Linked DNA regions of Homo sapiens: regions 2 and 3 are each reported to be linked to region 1. The links are microRNA targets in miRTarBase. Many come from high-throughput screens and were not tested one by one. Region 1 holds a microRNA gene; each other region holds the end of a gene's coding sequence.
What was found. The annotated mature microRNA hsa-miR-877-3p reads UCCUCUUCUCCCUCCUCCCAG and lies in region 1 at 2,354-2,374, opposite strand. An mRNA with a match to its seed (bases 2 to 7 or 8) in the 3' UTR can be bound and repressed. Matches are read on the target gene's strand: a 7mer-m8 pairs with bases 2 to 8, a 7mer-A1 pairs with bases 2 to 7 and ends in A, and an 8mer does both.

Region 1 (7,199 bases):
GCAAAAGCAGCTGTGTCTTCACATTTCTCATGCTCTCCCTCCTTGGCTCCAGGACTCACCGGTGTCAGCTTGCCAGTCAGCAGCAGGAGTAGCGTACTCTTCCCCACACCATTAGGGCCCACAATGCAAACTGCAAGATGGAAGACAGGTGGTCAAAGAGGTCCCCAGAGACTCTCCCTGTGGCTCCTGCTACACATCCCTGAGGCAACCCCGCCAACTCACTCCTTGAATCCATGTCGATGCCAAAATCCAAGTTCTTAAAGAGTGGTTTCTGTCCCTGGTAGCCGAATGTCACACCTGAAAGCCACGAAAAGAAGCAATTTATATTCTTTTCAGTCCCTGCAAAGTCCCTCTCATGTGCTGGCCTTGGAGAACAGGAGCAATCTCAGCCTTGGTGGAGAATTTAGGGTGCACATACATGCTTCCGGTGCTTCCTGTGGAGCAGCAGAGGCCCGCGGCACTCACCATGCAGACCCAGCACTGGAGGGCTGAGTGGTGGGGGGTCTGGAAAAGTGAAGCGCACAGTGTACTCCTTAGGGCGCTTCAGGAGCTCAGGGGCCTCCTGGGATTCCTCATCTTGGTTTTTCCGTCGGCATTTCTGCTGCTTCCGAGTCAGGGCTTCCTTCGTTTGTTTTTCCTGGAGAGGAAGAGGAAAAAAGAGAAACCTGAGCCCTGCGCGGCAGTCCTTGAAATGTAGGCCAGCGTTCCAGAGTCTCCTTCTTCCTCCACTGCCAGGAGAGAACAGTGGCCCCCAGCCCAGAAGTCCCTCAGGTGCTCACCGCCTGCTTGGTGGACTTCCCGCCTGCCTTCAGCTCCTTCAGCTTTTTCTCTTGCTTCTCATACTGTTTCAGCAGTTCTTTCTGCTTCTGCTGGTACATCTTTTTGAAGGTCACTGGGGCAGAAGAGGGGACCAGGCATCAGTGGTTGCTCCTCTTCCCAGCAAAGGGACAACCAGGGACTGGTGGTGATGGGGTAGGCATCACTGTCTGGAATTCTGACAGGATTCAGTTTATCTAAATAGGCCCTCCCACTCAGGCCTCTTTTCGAGGTTCTATCTCTTCCCTGCATCCACACACAATCCTACTTACTGTAATTGCCCCTATAGTAGTGGAGCCGCTGGGCATCGAGGTGGATGATATCAGTGCAGACATCATCCAAGAAGCCCTGGTCATGGGAGACGATCAGCAAGGTCTTCCGCCAGCCCTGGAGGTAGCTGGGTTTCAGAGAACAGGGTGTAAGTGTCACAGTGGTCAAGTGAGAGAGAATTCAGAGGAAGCAGGCAGACAACGGGGGCTGGGAGGGAAAGGGGGGTCTGAATAGAGCTCCACTCACAGGCACAGTGGAGAAGGGCTAAAGGAAAACAGGGCAGGGAGGGAAGGGGAAGAAAGTGCAGAATGGGAACCAATGATGCAAAGGCCGTAACGCACTTATTAAGCCAGATGACAGCGTTGAGGTCCAGGTGGTTGGTGGGCTCATCCAGCATCAGCAGTGTGGGCTCCATGAACAGTGCCCTAGAGGGTGGGTAGCAGAGGGCAGGGTCAGGGAGAGAAAGATCCTTGCTCAGACAACCCCAGAGAAAACTCGGAGATAGAGCCTGAGACCATGAACACTCCTTCCCAAGCTCTCCTCAGAGAAGTTCTCGGGCAGGATACGGTTTAATTTTTTTGAGACAGGGTCTCGCCCTGTTGCCCAGGCTGTCGTGCAGTGGCACAATAAGGGCTCACTGTAGTCTAAATCTCCCAGGTCTAAGTGATACTTCTACTTCAGCCTCCAGAGTAGCTGTGACCACAGCGTGCGCCACCATATCCAGCTGATCTTTAAATTTTTTGTAGAGACAGGGTCTCCCTATGTTGCCCAGGCTAGGATATGTTTTCTTCCCCCTTTTGTGAAGATAGAGTCTCACTATATTGCCCAGGCTGGTCTCAAACTCCTGGGTTGAAGATAATCCTCCTGCCTCTGCCTTCCAAAGTGCTGGGATTACAGGCGTGACCCATTGCACCCAGCTGCAGGGTATGTTGATGAGAACTCACCACCAAGTAGGGAGATAAATAGAGAAAGACCCTAAGTTCTCACAACACAGATAGTAAGGAGGGAGAGGTAAGCCTTGAGCCTCCCTATTGGCCTTGGAAGAATGAGAAGGGAAAGAGGAAAAGGGCCCCGGTGGTCTGAGGCTGGAAGGGAGGGCAGTGAGGTGAATGGCCCACCTGGCCAGGGAGACACGCATGCGCCAGCCCCCTGAGAACTTCTGTGTGGGTCGATTCTGCATTTCAGGGTCAAAGCCCAGGCCAGCCAGGATCCGCCGTGCTTTGGCCTCTGCAGCTGCCGCCCCAGTGGCCCGCAATTCCTCATACACCTGGGAGGAGGGAGAAGAGGACACACGTCTGAGGGTCCCAGGAACCCCCAAGTCTTTGCCCGTGTCCCCTGCGCCATCTCCTCTACCTTCTCTAGCCTCTCAGCAGCTGTGTCATCCCCTTGTTCCAGCTGTCCCTGAAGCCGCCGCTCCTCTTCCAGCAGCTTCAATCGCTTGGTGTCAGCTCGAAGAACAGCCTGGACTGCTGGTGTCTCATCTGCTACCACCTCTGGGAGGCAGAGGGAGAACAGTCAGGCAGCCTCAAGAGCCAAGAGTCTCATCTTTCTTTCCCTTCAATTACATTTCTGTTTTGCCTGACCCTGCCCAGCTCTTTGTACTTGTTCCAAATAAAACACTCTCAAGTTCCTCATTGACCCTCCCCTCCTTTCCTTAGCATCCCTTTCCCGGTCTCCAGTCTCCCTCCACATCCCTTCCAACTCCATAGCCACAATTTCTTCTATTCTTGGCTGGCTGGCTTTTCTACCCAACTGCCCACCCCACCAAGCCCCTTTTCTCCCCAGTGGTCTCACCCTGCTCACACAGCAACACATCAATGTTGGGAGGGATGCTCAGGGCTCGGTTGGCAATGTGCTTGAGGAGTGTGGTCTTGCCCTTGCTGGGGAATAAAAGCTATTAGGACCTGGCCACCACTGAGAAATCTCTTCTTTTCCCTCCAGGCCCTTTTTTGCCTCCAGCTCCCTCCTCTTCTCACCCATTGGGTCCTACCAGCCCGTAGCGGCGGCCGGCTACAATGTACAGGTCTGCATTGACGAACAGCTCCTTGCCATGAGCGGAGATGCTGAACTTCTCCAGCTGCAGCCATCAGGAAAGAGGTGGCAGAGGGAAGGGATGATCACATGAAAATTCTCCCTTTGGGACAGGAGCGGCCACTTTCTCCCTGCAGGGAAGCCTCTGACAAACCGCTACCTCCAGCATAATCCCCTTCCTCTCCCCACAGCCGGTCCCCGCCCTGTTCGCTGCCTGTAATGGGAGCCCCATGCATCCTCAGCTAGTCTAGTCTGTCCCACACTATTTTCTGCCAAGGGTGGACCCCACTTCTACTGGTTTTTCTATCTTCTTGCTCAAGTTGGCAGAACCTAAGGTGTGGAAAATGCCTCCAATCTTTCTTCCCACTGAACTAACCCATTCACACACCACAGCCACTCAGGGAAGATGAGAGAACTGGCTCTTCCCTAGGTAAGTGGACTGGAAGGGGCCCCTTGAGACCTTACCTTGATGTCAGATGCATTTTCTAACATGGCTTGGCGGGAGGACATCTCCGCCTGGGACACGGAGAAGTCATTTTCAGCTGCATTGGCTGCTTTTAATGAAGCCACTTGGCGCTCATACTCCATCTGAGAAGGTAGGAAAAACTACATTTGAAGCCACAGTCTACCAGTTTCCCATCACCATGAAACAGCCCATGCTGGCTGGGCATGCTGGCTCACGCCTGTAATCCCAGCACTCTGGGAGGCTGAGGTAGGTGGATCTCTTGAGCTCAGGAGTTTGAGACCAGCCTGGCCAACATGCTAAAATACTGTCTCTACAAAAAATACAAAAATTAGCCAGGCATGGTGGTGCCACCCATAGTCTCAGCTATTCGGGAGGCTGAGGTGGGAGGATCACTTGAGCCTGGTAGGTTGAGGCTGCAGTGAACAGAGATCACGTCATTGCACTCCAGCCTGAGTAACAGTGTGAGACCCTGTCTCAAAAAATAAACAAAAAACCCCAAAGTGAAACAGCCCATGTCATCAGACATTGAGATAAGGTTCACAGAACACAATTATTTTCTTACTCCGATTGTTTTACTTGGAGTAGCCCCCAAACCTTTCCTTCGTGTCCCCAATCGCATGTCCCCTAGTTGAAGTATTTAAAAATCCCCTACTTTTGACCGCTAAGAACCAAGGTCTTACCTGTTTTTTCAGCTTTTTCTTCTCCTTTTTGCTAAGATGAGCATAGGGATCATCTGCCTTAGACTCTCCTCCTTCCTCCTCCTCTTCTTCCCCTTCTCCTTCTTCCTCTGAACCCTGTGAGAACCCGGGGATGGTCAAAACTAGGGACTCCTGGCTGGGCGCGGTGGCTCACGCCTGTAATCCCAGCACTTTGGGAAGCCAAAGCGGGCAGATCCCAAGGTCAGGAGATCAAGACCATCCTGGCTAACATGGTGAAACCCCATCTCTACTAAAAATACAAAAAATTAGCCGGACGTGGTGGCGGGCGCCTGTAGTCCCAGCTACTCGGGAGGCTGAGGCAGGAGAATGGTGTGAACCTGGGAGGAGGAGCTTGCAGTGAGCCGAGATCGTGCCACTGCACTCCAGCCTGGGTGACAAAGCAAGACTCCGTCTCAAAAAAAAAAACAACAAAAAAAAACTAGGGACTCCTTCTAGAACTCAGATTTCACATCATCTGCCCCCTGTCCCTGCCCCAGCTCTTTCCTTCACTACTCAGAGTCCTAAAATATCTTGGGATCCTCTCTCATTCTCATACCCAGCCCCTGGTCTCCCTGAGGTCCTTTATTAATTTCTGCTACCAGGAATGGTACAAGACAAATGGTATGAATGTGTATTTATGAAATGTGACAACGCGTTATGTCCCTATAAATGTAACTCCCAATACAATGTAACTGAAGGTGGAGTAAATGGATTTCAAGAGTTTCATTTGTATAAAATGAGTTTCTGTGGTTTCCTTGTTAACATGCAAAGAAAAGATCAGGTAGCCGTCCGGGCACGGTGGCTCATGTCTGTAATCCCAGCACTTTGGGAGGCCAAGATGGACAGATCACAAGGTCAGGAGATCAAGACCATCCTGGCTAACATGGTGAAATCCTGTCTCTACTAAAAACACAAAAAATCAGCCGGTCATGGTGGCACGTGCCTGTAGTCCCAGCTACTCGGGAGACTGAGGCAGAAGAATTGCTTGAACCCGGGAGGCAGAGGTTGCAGTGAGCTGAGATTGCGCCACCGCACTCCAGCCTGGGCAACGGAGTGAGACTCCATCTCAAAAAAAAAAAAAAAAAAAAAAAGATCAGGAAGCTCTAGTGCACAGTCAGAGGAATCCAGCAGAATCACAGAATTAGGAAGTGCCAGACGCATAGGGACCCTAGAGATCTCCGGACTCCTCCTTCTATCACACAAAGGAGACAAGTGAGACCCAAGGGGATGGGAAGATGTATTCAAGGTCACACAGCCAGTGAAGGCAGAGCCAGGACCCAGATCATCTGAGATAAATTCCAGGCCCTTTCTTCACTGGATTAGGTGTTGCAAACTACAGCCCATGGGCCAAGGCTGACCTGACATTTATTTTTATATAGCTCCTGAACTTTATAAAAATAATTTTTGTATTTTCAAAGAGTTGTTAAAAAAAAAAAAGAATATGTGATAGAGATTGTATGTGGCCTGCAAAGCCAAAAACATTTACTATATGGCCCTTTATAGAAAAAGTTTGCTGGCTGGCATGCTGGCTCACACCTGTAAACCCAGCATTTTGGGAGGCTGAGGCAGGAGGACTGCTTGAGCCCAGAAATTCAAGACCAGCCTGAGCAACATAGTGAGACCTCATCTCTATACTAAAAATAAAAAAATTAGCCAGGGGTAGTGGTGCACACTTGTAGTCCCAGCTACTCAGTAGGCTGAGGCAGGAGAATCTGTTGAGCCCAGGAGGTTGAGGCTTCAGTGAGCCGTGTTCACACCACTGCACTCCAGCCTGAGTGACAGAGTAAGATCCTGTGTAAACAAAAACAAAAACAAAAACAAACGAACCACCACCCCAACTACTCCCCCAAAAAAAGAAAAGAATAAAGGTTTGCTGGGATAATAACTATATCCCCAGATTCTAACTCTCCCATAAGGACCCTGGAAGCCCTAGTCCCTCATTCCACCTTGCCCCAACACCAAATACACACCTGCTCTGCCTTCTTGGCCTTCTCCTTCCCTTGTTTGGGAGGCTCCTTTTCCTTTATAATTTCTTCTTCTTTATCCTCCTCTTCATTGTCCAGAGCAGCGAATTTATTTTGAGGCTAATAGGGAAAAGACAGGTCTGATGAAATGTTTTTTTTTTTTTTCTTTTTTTTTTTTTGAGACGGAGTCTCGCTCTGTCACCCAGGCTGGAGTGCAGTGGCGCAATCTCGGCTCACTGCAAGCTCCACCTCCCGGGTTCACGCCATTCTCCTGCCTCAGCCTCCCGAGTAGCTGGGACTACAGGCGCCCGCCACCACGCCCGGCTAATTTTTTTTGTATTTTTAGTAGAGACGGGGTTTTACCGTGTTACCAGGATGGTCTCGATCTCCTGACCTCGTGATCCGCCCACCTCGGCCTCCCAAAGTGCTGGGATTACAGGCGTGAGCCACCGCGCCCAGCCCTGATGAAATGTTTTAATTCCTGGGCCCCAATACCTCCTCCTGCTAGTTACTCTCTCACCTTAGCCTTCCCTTTTGACTTCTCTTCCTTTCCCTTTTTGCCCTTGAGTGCAGGCTGCTGTTCCTCAGATACGGCCTGGAGGAGACACACATACACATTACACACATACATACAAATTATTGTGCTACTTTGCTGTGTAATAAGCATTTCTAGAGAGTCTACTGTGTTAACCATACACATGCTCCTCCATTTACGACAGGTTGCATCCCGATAAACCCACCAGAAACTTAAATAAAAAATGATAGTTCTTGGCCGGGCGTGGTGGCTCACACCTGTAATCCCAGCACTTTGGGAGGCCAAGGCAGGTGGATCACAAGGTCAAGAGATCGAGACCATCCTGGTCAACATGGTGAAACCCTGTCTCTACTAAAAACACAAAAATTAGCTGGGCGTGGTGGCACGTGCCTGTAATCTCAGCTACTCAGGAAGCTGAG
Region 2 (7,199 bases), not on the chromosome of region 1:
GTAAACCTACACTGTATCAGTAAATGTGATTGTTATAATTATGAAATTAAGATTGAAATAAAAGCTAACTGTCTTTTATTTTACACACGCAGCTAATGATGTAAGAAAGAAGGGACATGGGAAGACCAGAAGTAAAGAGGTAGATAAATTGATCAGAAACCAGCAAACAAATGATAGGAAACAAAAAGAAAGAAGACAAGAACACGGGCACCAGGAAACAAGGACTGAGAGAGAAAGAAGGTCAGAAAAACACAGAGATCAAAATTCAAGTGGTTCAAATTGGAGAGATCCTATAACAAAGTACACATCAGACAAAGATGTTCCTTCTGAACGAAATAACTACAGTAGAGTTGCGAATGACAGAGACCAAGAAATGCATATAGATTTGGAAAATAAGCATGGTGATCCCAAAAAGAAGAGAGGAGAGAGAAGAAATTCTTTTTCTGAAAATGAGAAGCATACACACCGAATTAAAGACAGTGAAAATTTCAGAAGAAAAGATAGATCAAAGTCAAAGGAAATGAATAGAAAGCACTCAGGCTCAAGAAGTGATGAAGATAGATATCAAAATGGTGCCGAGAGACGATGGGAAAAATCTAGCAGATACTCTGAACAATCCAGAGAATCAAAGAAAAATCAGGACCGGCGAAGAGAAAAGTCTCCAGCAAAACAAAAATAATTCTACAAAATGACATAAACTGGACATGCCTTATATTCAGTTGAAACAAATTATTTTTTACTTTGACGAACTTTATAGAGAATTCTTGTATAAAGTATTGGTTTGTATTTGTAAATTTAAAAAATGTTTTCATTTTAACATGTTTTATAATTGATACATCTCAAGGCCCTACCCATAAAATTATTTGAAAACTTTCACCAGAAAGGGATGTAAGTCTCGCTTATATTTTGTGAATAAAATGATCAAAAGCTCATTGATTCAGTGATGTTTTTTCAATTGACAAAATATTTTTTTAGTTGTTTAAGAAGCTGTTATAGTGAATTATCAGTGCTTTTTTGTTTGTAACTGAAGACCAAAACAGGTGAACCTTTTCAGTTTAACAGTTTTGCTTTGTTAATGAGATGTTATGAATCTTTTTCAGGTAGTCACTTTTTTTTTTTTCAGTAGAGGATTTGTTACAATTTTCATATTAGGCTTTGAACAAAGTATGTAATGTGTAATTTTTTTCACAAGTGTTGGTAAAGCTAGGTGTATGTTACTCTTTAAACCAATACGCAGTTATTTATAATTAGAACTTCTCCCACAGGAAATATTTCTTCTCTCTGGACTCCTTGATATCATTTAATTGAAATTCTTTGTGATTAGTGCATTTTTCTCAGCCTTGAAGTTATATCACTGTTGATGAATTAATGTGTATTTAATTTTTAGTTTAGGTTAATAGATCATTGGAAAACATATAGTTGTGAAATATGCAAGCAGCCTAAATGTAATTTCAGTTTTTTATATGAATTTTAAGGGTTTCCATCATTGTAACTGTTAACTGATTAATTAATATGACCACATTAGTTATTACTTTTGAAATAAATATTTCCTCTAAGATATTAGACTTGCTGACAAACATTTTAACTTCCTTGCTAAATATAGGCTTCTTGTGTTTGCTCACCTTAAAGGTGCATATAGTTCATTTTAGCCAATGTTTGGTTTCAGGAATAGTGGGACCACCATTTTAATGTTTAGTTTTTGGGCATATGCTGATTCAAAATGTTTCCTATTTTTGTTGTTTAACTTGAGTATAAATAACAATAAAATTCATGTAAAGAAATATCCGCTCCTTCTCCCCACCAACTCACAAAAAGCATTCATTCGAATGAGACAGCTTGGATAAATTCCTTTTAGTGTTTTCTCCCTTTGTGGTGGTTAAAATTTGGTGTCATTGGAAGGGACCATCATGGACAGTGCATTCCACAGAACTTACAAGCTGAGCAAATTGGATTTAACAAACATGTAGGCCATGAGCCCTAAGGGAAATAGTTTTTTTTTTTTTTTTTACCTGAACCCTCATCTTCAGGGTTGGTAAAAAGGAAAAAACAGTAGACTAGAAATTTTAGTTTATTTTCTACACTTTAACCTTAGTTCATGACTTTTACATGTAAAAATGGGAACCCATTCATTTTATTAAGTGCTTAAGACCTTAGAGTTATTAGATTATTTTTAAAATGTTATTAATATGTATTAATCTTCTACTGTTTGCTCAGGTTTGTTTTAGGTACTAGAGATAAAACAGTGAACAGAGTCTCTACTCGTTGAGACTTATAGTTCAGGGGAGGGAAATGGTAAACAAAGACAGTAAATAAATAAATATATGATATATCCAGTAGTGGTAAGTGCTATGAAGAAAAGTAAAGCAGAGAAAGGCGAGACTGAGTGATTGGGGGACAGGGTGTATAGACAGAGCAGTTCTTTGATGAGGTGATGCTTGCCCAGATATCTGAACAGAGTGAGGGCTTGAGACATGTGGATTGCTTGGGAAGAACCTTGTAGGCAGAAGGAACAGCTGTAATACAGATGTTTTTTGACAGCAAATATTGCCTGGAAATTTTTGTTAACATTTCCTATTCTACTTAACTTGTGTTTTGTCTTGTGTGTGTGCTCCTCACTATGTTCTATACTCTTATACAAGCAATTAATACCTAACTACCTCTAGCAGAAGTATTTTGAGTATAAGTGAGTTATATCAGAAGCAGAGACTAGAAGCTGGATTGAGGAACTATTCTGTTCTGCTTTGAAAATGCATTTCTGCAGCATCAACTATGATGTATTCACATGTACTGTCTGCCGCTCAGGCAGATTTTTCACCTTCACTCTTTTAATGTGTAAACAAGAAACATGTTGCCTATGTTTGCTATTTCTATATTTTTACACTATTTCAGAGTTAGTATTTTTTAAGGATCAACTGAATTCTAGATACTTTGCATGCTCATTCCTTTTCAGGTTCTCAATTTCCTTGCTTCCAAAGTTCTAATTCTACATCCCTAGCTACCTACTCCCATTGTCATCCCCGTTAGGTTGGCTTTCAAATCATACCACCTCTGAAATCCCTCCTTGAAGCATCATACTTTGGCCACTTCCCAACCAGTTCACCTGCTTTAGTACCACTATTCTAGAAATCCTTCACCTCAGCAAACCTTCTGATCCATTGACTTTGTTACAATCAGTTACCAATCCCCACCCCAGCACTTCTTTACTTCCCTCATTCCGTGATCTATCATTCGAATAGATAAATGAACAAATAACGAATTTAATTCTTTCAAAACAACCCCATGAGAATTGGTATTGTCTTCCTACATCACAGAAGAGGAGACTGGAGTCCAAAGAGACTAATTAGGCTCAGGCCACAAAGTTGATAAGTAGCAGTATTTAACTCAGATCATCTTCATTCCAAAGCACAACTGGAGGATGAATAAAAGCCAGAGAGAAGGATTTGAGAATCAGCTCTGTCTCCTAGCAGCTGTGTGAACTTAGGCAAATTATTTCACTTTTCTGACCTTCTGATTCACCTTTAAAATACTTTTGTCTACCTTACACAGTTGTAGTGATTATTATATGAAATAATGAAGTCAAAGGCCCTAGAATACCATGTAACACAGTGGGCATTTAGCAGAGTTCTTTTTCATAGCATACAGCAAAGATGTGGAAGAAAATTCAGGCTCATCAACTGGTTCATTGATTGCTTCATTCCATCTGTAATGCCATTTATAGTTGAAAAAAACCAGAATCGTGTTAAAGTAGCACAGCAAAATGAATTGATTGTTTTGGAGTTAAGGTGTGACAGAGTAATTATCCATCACTTCTATCATAGTACCTGTTTCCCAGATGTACGTATCCTGTTAGCTCAAGCAACCTACTTCCTGTGTCTTATACCACTACTTCACATTTCTCAAATGTATTATCAGAAACAAAGGTTTTGGCTATCCCAGATAGTTATGAGTGAGGTTTTTATTCTTGACTTGCTTTGTTTACACCATTTTGATTTTGACTTAACTGACGTGTAATCCCCCCCCCCAAAAAATTCATAGATTAGCAGATTAAAGTCTTCCCCATAGATTTTTTTAGAATCCTGATGCCTTTGTTTTCCAATCCAATTCTCACTTCTTCCAATATAGTCAAATGTCTTTTCTGTCTGATCTTTCAAGTTCTTTCATTCTGTTCTGTGTATATTCCACGGAATATTTATTCAGCCAAGCAAACTTTAACACCCACTGATACTTTAGGAGAGAGCTCAGAGTGCCCAATGTGACATCTTGGAAACCTGTTCCCTTAACATGGACATTTTCACATTACACACTTTGAAACACTCATTGAAACATCTCCAAATGGTGTTCCTGGCTCTCATTGTGATGTCTTGTGTCCCCTCAACCTTGAATATGCTCTACAACTTCCATTTATACTCACCCACATATTACTAAACCTCATTAAAAACCTCTGAGTCTGTTGCATATCTCCAATTAGAACTTCAGTTTCTTGAAGTTGGTTAATTGCATCTATGCATTTTATGTTTACTAGACATAAAAATGAAGACAAGTCTCTACCACTCCCACCTTCCCCTCCCGCCACCCAAAGTTCATGATTTATGGCAAGAAACTAAGCTATTGAGTTCATCTCAGATCATCTTAGGCACAGGTAAGAGGCAATGAGATAACAACCCAAAGTCACACAGAGGTGTGCATGTCCGTGTATTTACTGCGGAAAAGAGCACAAGTTCCTGTGGCTGAAATGGAGGTATCTGCTTTTAGGAAAAGACTCAGATTTCATATAGGGTAACTTAGTACCATTTAATTTGAATACTATTTGGCAACTGCAAATTAAGTCTGACTGGATTTTTAATCTTACCATTACCCCTTTCTGGCTGTTGACATTTAGGCAGGTCTTTGAACCTCTTAGTTTTTTACCTGTACAATGGTACAATTATAGCACCTCCCTCAAATGGTGGGTGATCTCTGTGGCATACTTAGTGCCTGCAACTAAGTGCTCAGTGTGCTATTATTGCTGTTACTGGTTTTATTCTTAACCATTTTCATTAAAGCTGACATAATACCATTAGACCAGGAATTGCAAACTCTAATACCTACAGGGGCCAGGTGAAAATCACAAATGAGACAAATTGGGTAGTGAACTGGAGTCATTTAAAGGCAGCACCATTTACTCAGCTTCATCCAATTCTGCCTGTTAAAATGAAGACAAGGTTGACCATCTCCCTGGTATTTGAAAGAATTAAATAATCCGAATTTTTATGGAGCTTCTGATTTTTAAATGTTGACTATTAAATAGGCCAGAATTAAGCTGTCCAAACAAAATGATCTACAGGCAAACTAACTTTACAGTAGCTAATTTGTGACTCCACTCTAGACCCTCAAAAACTATTACTTAATTTTGGAATGGCACTGTTAGACATAGAAGGTCATTTTTTGGTTTCTGCTCCTCATAGAGTGGGAAGATAAGGTCCTTCATCTTTCTTGAAACACCTTTTACTTTGCTAACCTCAGTAATCCCCGCTAGCTAAATTGCTCTAAAACTTTTGTCAAGTTTTAGTTCTGCATTTCATTGGCCTACTCCCTCCTTGTAATCCAGGGATGTAAAATACAATTCGTTTTTCCTAAAATCTGCATATTTTCTAATCTCCTGCAATTGGTTCCACCAATCTCCCATCACCTGAGTTTTCATTGCTAGTCTATATCCAAATCACCAAATTGCTTTGGAAAACTTTGGCATGCACCCCTATCTTCCCACACAAACTGCTGTCACCATAGTTCTGGCCCTTTTTACTTTTTCTTTTCTGTTTCAACTGTTAGACAATAGTTTATTGTTTATCTCTGCTGTGTGTCATATACTATGCTAGTTGCTGAGGATATAGCCATGAGCAACGGGGACCTCTTCTCAGTTGAGCCTAAATTATTACAGGAGGAAGCAGAAAATAGTCAAGTTTTTTAAAAAATAAAAACTTATACTTTGAAAAATGTTAGCCATTCAGAAAAGCTGAGAGACCACTTAGGTATCATCTACCTAGATTCAGATTAATCGAAAGCATTATTTTCATCTTGTCACTGCCTTATACATTGAAGCAATGACTCTTCCAGCCCATAGGATAAATGTAAATTTCCACCCTGTTACTTTAGTTTCTTTAAAGTCCAAGTTCAACCTGTGTTTTCTTAATGTTTGCTCTAGGAGCTGCCATCCTTTAAGCAAGACGATGTGACAGGCTTGTCAGTGTCTGATTTTTACAGGAACAACTGTAAGGTAAGAGATATCCCAATTTTACAGCTTGCACGCTGGTGTTTACCCAGCTAAGACATGGCAGAGCCAGGACTGCATCAGCCACGTGATCCCGCTTGACAAATGAAAACGTTTTTTGCTGATTGCCTTGCTGCACAAACACTGCTGGACAGGGCTGGTTATTTACTGTCCTGAAAAGACATTGTTCTTTCTCATCTCTGGATGTCTGCCTCCAGTGTACCCTCCACTTGAAATATCCTTTTCTGTTTGCCTATCCAAATCTTTCAAAATTCAGCACATCTTCCTTGCTACTCTCATAAAAGTAAGCAATTCAAGCCCCATGTGTTAAAAGACCCTGTAATCAGTACTTAATGCATTGTGTATTGAGATCATTTTTATCATTTATCCTTTTTTTAAAATTTCAGCTTTTATTTTATTTTATTTTATTTTTTTCGAGACAGAGTCTCACTCTGTCGCCCAAGCTGGAGTGCAGCGGTGTGATCTTGGCTCACTGCAACCTCCGCCTCCCAGGTTCAGGTGGTTCTCCTGCCTCAGCCTCCCAAGCAGCTGAGATTACAGGCATCTGCCACCATGTCTGGCTAATTTTTGTATTTTTAGTAGAGATGGGGTTTCACCACGTTGGCGAGGCTGGTCTCAAACTCCCGACCTCATGATCTGCCTGCCTCGGCCTCCCAAACTGCTGGGATTACAGGCGTGAGCCACCCTGACTGGCCTCAGCTTTTATTTTAGATATGGGGATACACGTGTAGGACTGTTACATGGGTATGTGAGACCCAGGTAATGAGCTAGTACCCAATAGGTAGTTTTTCGACTTATGCTGCCATCCCCATCCCCTCCCTCCCCTCTCTAGTAGTCTGTGGTGTCTATTGTTCCAATGTTTATGTCCATATTAGCTCCCACTTACGACCGAGAAATGTGGTATTTGGTTTCTGTTCCTGTTATCTGCTTA
Region 3 (7,199 bases), not on the chromosome of region 1:
CTGGGACTACAGATGTGCACCACCATGCCTGTCTAATTTTTGTTATTTTTTAGTAGAGATGGGGTTTTACCATGTTGACCAGGCTGGTCTCAAACTCCTGGCCTCAAGTGTCCCACCCGCCTCAGCCCCCTAAAGTGCTGCGATTACAGGCATGAGCCACTGCACCCAGCCTAGGCTACTCATTTCTAAAAAGAGAATAGGAAAAATGGGAGGAACTGGGATGATCTGGAACCTGAGACTACATAAGCATTTCAAGTAAAGGGAAAAAAAAAAATCAACAAATGTTCAGCTAGAAATAAGTTATTTTATTTTAAAACACATACAGATTAATAAATATTACTGGAAAACTTAATAGCCTTTTTATTTACATGAGGCAATAACAACATGCTATGACTACATCTATAAAGCAAAATATAAGCAGGTCTTGGCCACTGACACATGTGTCTATGTATGCTAATTGGAAGCTCCCCAATACATGTCTATGACAAAACTTTTACACAACCAATCAACATTTGACATTTTTTACATCTTCTTCCTCTCATGATTATATTCCATTTTCAAGAAAATAATAGTTATCCTTTGAAAAGGCAAAACGCTCAAGCCACTGAAAAACAGTATCTAAATTTCTGTAAAGTGCAAAAATACTAAGGTGGGGGGCAATTATTATATTCTGACAAATAAATATTCTGAACTTTTCAACATGACCCTTTGGCACTAGTGGTTTGGGAGCCCTGACATTCGCCTGGTGTCAGTTCAGCATCAGGGTTGAGCTGCTTGGAAGCAGGAAGTTCAGCGTCATTTATTACAAATCCAGTGCAACAGAATCCACGTGTTTCACAGGCCATTAAATCTTTTTCAGAATACAGACCTCGGCCGAATGTCAGGAGCACATCACACCATCGGAAGGTGATCTTTCTGTGCGGCTTTCTGAAGTCCCTGTTTAATTTCCATATTTTACAATAGAACATATAAAACCCTTTCTTTTAAAACAAAAAAAGGAAAACTAAAGCTTCATGGAATCATGCAAACTTTACACCCAGCACTTCCTTTGCTTTCTCAGCGCATGAGGCTGTGTGTCCTACAGCATGGTCCTGAGCAGACTCCATGGTCCGTGCAAGCGGAGTTTCCACTGTGCCACTCCCAGGCACTTCTGAACACGGTGCTCTCATCTCAGGCCACCAGAACACTGCTGAAAGTGCCGGTGTTTTAGAAACAATTTGAAGAACCATCCCACCCCTTTAGAGGTAGAAAAACTGAGGCACAGAAAGGTTAAGAGACTCACCTATGTTTGCACAATTTAGGGAAAAATAGAGAAAAGAAGAAAAACATCCTCCTCCCTGGCTCATGCTCTGGGCCCTGGATTCTGCTTTTTAAATGCTTTTGGGTACATGTGAAATAGATGTTTATTTACATGATCCTTGTTCTACTGAATATCAACTTTTTACTAGACAACATATTTTGATGTAACAAAGTTACATTTTCTTAAAATATAATTATGTTGTTGCACGTGAGGAATGTGAATGAAACAAATGAGTCGTGGTAGTGGGCCAAATTCTCACTGCTGTTCCTGTAATTCTGAACCTTTTCAAGTATACAATGGAGGTATAAGAATCTGGCCAGATGTGAAACATCACCTATAAGCTAAAGGACAGACCCTTAAAATTCATCACCAGTACAATTGTGAGGTGGAAATGAGGAATACAAAAAATTGAGGTATTTTATATGATAAACTGTCTTGTGGTGTGACTGGTGTACAAATTGGTCTTTTCTTTCCAACTCACATTAACAGAATCTACCTATGAATATGAGTAAAACCTATGAAAAATGAACACGGATATGTCCTTGGGAGGAAGGTCACTGTTAAGGAGTCAATGATACATTTTTGGTCCCTGAGAAGGCAAAACACCAAGACTCCATCCAATCCCGCCTGATGGACGAACAACGCCCTCGGTGTCAGACACCATGAAAAGAACAACTTCAGAACACGGAAGCTAATCCATGCTGTCGGGAACAGACCTTACACTGAAATGTTCTCTTTCTAGTTTCCTGCTTGGTGGCAGGAAGCCTAAGTCAGCATCGAGCAGGTGTCAGGTCGAAGCGGCACAACGGGAGGGGCTCTGGGAACCACCGGAGTACTCTCTCCCCTCTTCTGGGTTAGCTGAGCAGCTTGAAGAAGAGGAATCCCCCGACCAGACAGAAGGGCAGCAGCCTGTGCCCATCACACCTGTTTCCACGGACCAGGTGTCCGTGCACACCTGGGAGACACTGCATCTCCAAAGTCTAGAACTGGCCCCTAGAAGTTGAGCACAACATTTACAAAGAGCTGAGTCATCTAGGAAGAAGGAAAATAAGACGACTGCACAAGTGAACAGTGCTCACTTCTACCAGAAAACAGATGTGAAATCCAAAGAAGAACAAACACCAACATATTACCGCTGGGATGAACTTCTGGAAAGACAACTGGGTGTAGTAAATTGGCTTGAAGAGCAGGAATTGAAAGAATATTCCTTATTGCTGAACAAAGAGCTGCGAAGTATATTCACTAACATTCTGATAGGAAAAGATCTCAATGAGAGCTGAGCAAGGCCACCAGAATACCAAATTCCTCCCCAAAGTCCCCAGCATGGGCAGGGCCTCACTCCATGTGGCACTGGAAGGACTTCCCTCCCCAGCACCTTCTCCACAGAGATGGCATGGTCCTGCCAGCCGGGAAGATGCTCCAGGGGGGCTTTGTGGTGCTGGGTTAGGGTTAGAATCCTTAATTGGCCCTACCTTTGATCAATGAGCAGAACAGGAAGCAATCCTTTCAAATGCAAATATTCAGAGGAGAAAACAAGGCATTGCCCAAGAAGAGGAGAGAAATAGCCTATTTAAGTATCTATCAAGAGAAATCTGCATATTGTGATCAAAACCTTTGATTTTAGAGGATGCTTGAAAACAAGTATACAGTAAGCATCTTTTTTTTCAAAGAATAGTATGATAATGAAAATATTTCAAGTACATGTACTTTTGGAAAGACCACTAAGAGATCTATCCATGTTCTAGGCCCTCCCCCAAAGTTCTCACTTTGGGGCTTTTTCATTTTCAAATGAATGATGAAAACATAATTTTTTAAAATAAATACTATCAAATCAGAAGTTATATGCTCTATATTAAATTTGAAAATTAGACTGTTCAACCACTGGTCATGTCATTTACTTTGAGGCTGGTGTCACGTGCTTGAAAAACAATGGATGATATGAACTTTGTTTCACTGGAAGAAAAGCTATGTATCCTACTGAAGTATCTGCTGAACAGAGGTAAACCTGAAAGATTCTAACTGTCCCAGGACCAGTCACCTTCAAGGGTAGAAGAGCTATTAATACTTTTGAGATTTTGTTTTACTCTAAGAATATTATAGAGAAGATCATCGGGTATCACCTCTCAGTATCAATGGTATAATTGTGGATTAAAATATACTAAGGTACACCAAGAGCTGCCTTTAAACTAAATTTCCCACAAAAGCTGTAGCAACACAAACATGATCATTTTCATGTGACACATGAACTTTCTCATTACACTTGTTAGCCACATGTATTCTTTGAATATCTCACACCCCTTACCTAGGAAACTATTTTTATGCCCAAAAGTATATTGATACTGCTACATTACGTTTTCAGAAAGTTCAGTTCAGTAAGTTAAGGCCTGCATTTCTAAAAGCACTGATGATAAAACACAAAACCTGCAAGAGCCAATAAAAAGAGTAATGGACTTTGAGCATTTGTTAACCATCCATTGAGAGGATTTAAGATTTTTAAAAAATAATGTTGTTGCTGCTCTCAGTTCACAAATCACTGACAACCCATGATCATCATGTACACGTTTACTCCATAAAGGTATTTTTCTCTCTATATTAAACTAGTCTCATTTTATTTAGCCTCTTTACTCAACACTTTAGGAAGCTATTCCTTGAGACTTTAGAAATGTTCTTTTTGCCTACAAAAACACATTTTTTTTCTTACTGAGGAACTTTAATTGGGTACTATTCAATTTTATGTTCTACTTCACCTAATCTACTTTACCCAACCCCATCTTTCAACTTGGCGTAGTTCCCTGCTGAGATAAAACACTGGCCATGAAGTACATGATACCGTGGTGAAATATGTGCATCACTTCATGCTATGCTCCCATTTGGAACACATGGATGGGAACACTATAGACAGAGAATGACCTCTTTGATTCAAATACTGGCATAATTAATGGCTCTTTTGCATTTAAGACACATAATGAGAGGTTAGCTGAGGAACTCTAGGATGCTCTGCCATTGCAAACAACAAGGAGATGGCTACATTTATTGGCTTTTTGTTAGAAAATCTTTCAAAAACTGCATATTGCAATTTGTAGAAGCTAGCCTAACCTCAATTGTGTCCTTTAACTTGTTCCTGTATGACAGGGTACTCGATATATGAGCTATTGAACAGGTACTCTCCCACTTAGCCTTATTATCAAGTTACCTAATTTATTTCTTCTGAATGGCCATGAATGCTTGCTGATAAAGAATGTGGATATATTTGATACTGGATCCCAGGTAACACAGATCGAATACAAATAAAATAATACCTCATGCTACTTAAATCAACTGTCTTTAATTGGACAATAATCACATGTTAAAGGGGTCAATTTGCTCTAATGTGTCTTTAGTCTTGACTATCTTCCAGTGAATATACAGTCATGAACCACGTAACCATGTTTCTGTCAAAGACATACCACTTACATGACGGTGGTCCCATAACATTGTAATACCATAGTTTTACTGTACCTTTCCTATGTTTGTAAACACAAATACTCACCACTGTGTTACAATTGCCTGCGGTATTCAGTGCGGTCACATGCTGTACAGGTGTGTGGCCCAGGAGCAACAGGCTGTACCATCTGGCCTGGGTGGGTCATAGGTGTCCCATCTAGGTTTGTATAAGTGCACTCCATGATGTTCACACAATAAAGTCACCTTACAATGCATTTCTCAGAATGTTTCCCTATCATTAAGTGACATGTGACTGTATTATTTCTAACTGCCTTATACATTTGTAACTTGAATATTGAAATATTAAAGCATACTCGAAGTTGCATTATTCTAATCTAAGAACATATACACATTAAGAGTCAAATTAAGTTAATAATTCAAGTGATAAAGGCACTGAAATTGATTTGAGCTATTGAAAAGTCATCCTGCCAGTGGAACACTACCTCATGTTCATTAACTCTTCTCTCTCTCTCTATTTACTATTAAAATGTCTTGGGTGGGGGTGGGGGTCGAAGAGTCAACTTGTCAGAGGATTAAAAACAATTCAATGTATATGCCTCTTATTTGGATGACATACTTGAATGTTATACATGCTTAATGCAAACTAACACAACTACAGACACATTCACTGTACAGTGCCAGAGTTCAAGACAACAATCTCTCATTCCCAAAGTAATCTAAGTAAAAATATCTCTGCTATCATGTAACAACTAACCAGAAAGAGCCCATCTTTTTCTGTTTAAATAATGTTAAAATGTTTTAAAAGAAGAGAATATTCATGAAAGCTTCCAGGTTAATGGAAATGAAAATGAGATTCGTCTCATCAGAGAGAGATGGTGCCAGGCAACCGTTGGGGACGTTTGGGCTGCAGAGGGCTGGCTGGGCCTCTGCTCTGGTGCTGAGCCATGCTCCCCGCTATCCACCAGACCACCTGTTACTATCCAGTCAATTCTAACACCATGATCGAGGACCTCTTCTACTTCACATCCAATCACGGCCAGAAACCACCTCCAATGCCTATTCCTCGAACCATCCAAGCTCCTATTGCAATCTAGTCTGTTTTCATATTAGATTTGTTCATCTCCCCAAGGTTGAAATTGAACTCTTTGAACACCTGTATAAGGACAATCCCCACGGAGACGGTCGTGAATCCACAGGCCATCCCCAAGAAGTCCACCAGGCCCACGTTGCTCCACTCCCGGAAGAGGATGGCTGAGGCCAGCAGGACCAGCGTGGTAAACACGACGTAGTAGATGGCCCCGAACACCGAGGAGTCGAAGCACTCCAGCGCCTTGTTGATGTACCTGAACTGGACGATGATGCTGCAGCCGAGCACGGCCAGGAGTACCAGGCACAGGCAGAGGGCTCTCTGACTGGACGGGTTGTTATGCAAGATGTCTTGGGCCGCCAGCCCGATGCCCTTGGTGGAAGGCACGGTGAAACTGCCCAGCAAGGAGCAGATGCTGATGTAGACCATGATGTTGGTGGGCCCATGGGCCGGCGCGATCCAGAAGATGAGCAGCAGCAGCATGAGCAGCACGATGCACAGGTAGCCCACAAACACTGGAACACAGACAGCACACAGTCACCCGGAGCCACCGCCTAGCAGCCGCAACCCAGGAGGTGGACTGGGGCAGCACCCGGGCCCCCACCCGCCACCCGCCACCGGCCTCTACTGCGGCACAGCCCTGGGGAGCATGTGGGCTCTGGCTTGAATTTACCAGACCCACTGATTTCATTCCACAAAAGTATTCCCATCATTTTCACTGTTAAAACATTTACAGCCGGGTTAGCCAGACGCGGTGGCTCATGCCTGTAATCCCAGCACTTTGGGGGGCCAAGGCAGGTGGATCATGAGGTCAGGAGTTCAAGACCAGCCTGGCCAAGATGGTGAAACCCCGTCTCTACTAAAAGTACAAAAATTACAGCGCGCCTGTAATCCCAGCTACTTGGGAGGCTGAGGCAGGAGAATCACTTGAACCTAGGGGGTGGAGGTTGCAGTGAGCCGAGATCAAACCACTGTACTCCAGCCTGGGTGACAGAGCAAGACTCCATCTCAGAAAAAAAAAAAAAAATTTACAGAAGGGCACAATGGCTCACACCTGTAATCCCAGCACTTTGGGAGGCCGAGGTGGGCCGATCAGGAGATCAATACCATCCTGGCTAACTTGGTGAAACCCTGTTCTCCACTAAAAATACAAAAAATTAGCTAGGCGTGGTGGCATGCACCAGTAATCCCAGCTACTCAGGAGGCTGAGGCAGGAGAATCGCTTGAACCCGGGAGGCAGAGGTTGCAGTGAGCCGAGATCACACCACTGCACTCCAGCCTGGGCGACAGAGCAAGAGTCCGTCTCAAAAAAAAAAAAAAAAAAAAAAAAAAAACCATTTACAGCTCCTAAATGTTTACATGGTCCTC

Region 2: miRTarBase lists CWC22 as a target of hsa-miR-877-3p. The part of its 3' UTR that is shown has no 7-base or 8-base seed match.
Region 3: the mRNA of NIPA1 is a reported target of hsa-miR-877-3p. Seed matches in the 3' UTR shown: 7mer-m8 at 5,754-5,760 and 7mer-m8 at 2,144-2,150.

The regions. Positions count from the first base shown.
Region 1 is chr6:30,579,572-30,586,770 of GRCh38, reverse strand. MIR877 (microRNA 877) reads right to left here and starts at 2,439; the gene lies at 2,354-2,439. ABCF1 (ATP binding cassette subfamily F member 1) reads right to left here. Exons shown (of 25, transcript NM_001025091.2): 7 at 6,766-6,840; 8 at 6,252-6,365; 9 at 4,264-4,377; 10 at 3,583-3,705; 11 at 3,063-3,163; 12 at 2,881-2,966; 13 at 2,440-2,579; 14 at 2,205-2,353; 15 at 1,428-1,511; 16 at 1,089-1,213; 17 at 780-892; 18 at 466-637; 19 at 223-297; 20 at 60-130.
Region 2 is chr2:179,938,609-179,945,807 of GRCh38, reverse strand. It overlaps CWC22 (CWC22 spliceosome associated protein), which reads left to right. Exons shown (of 20, transcript NM_020943.3): 20 at 93-932. The coding sequence ends at 679. Among named protein-coding and RNA genes, the nearest start is that of CWC22, 65 kb to the left of the region's middle.
Region 3 is chr15:22,822,875-22,830,073 of GRCh38, reverse strand. It overlaps NIPA1 (NIPA magnesium transporter 1), which reads right to left. Exons shown (of 5, transcript NM_144599.5): 5 at 285-6,346. The coding sequence ends at 5,835. Among named protein-coding and RNA genes, the nearest start is that of NIPA2, 12 kb to the left of the region's middle. RefSeq lists an enhancer at 2,433-3,185.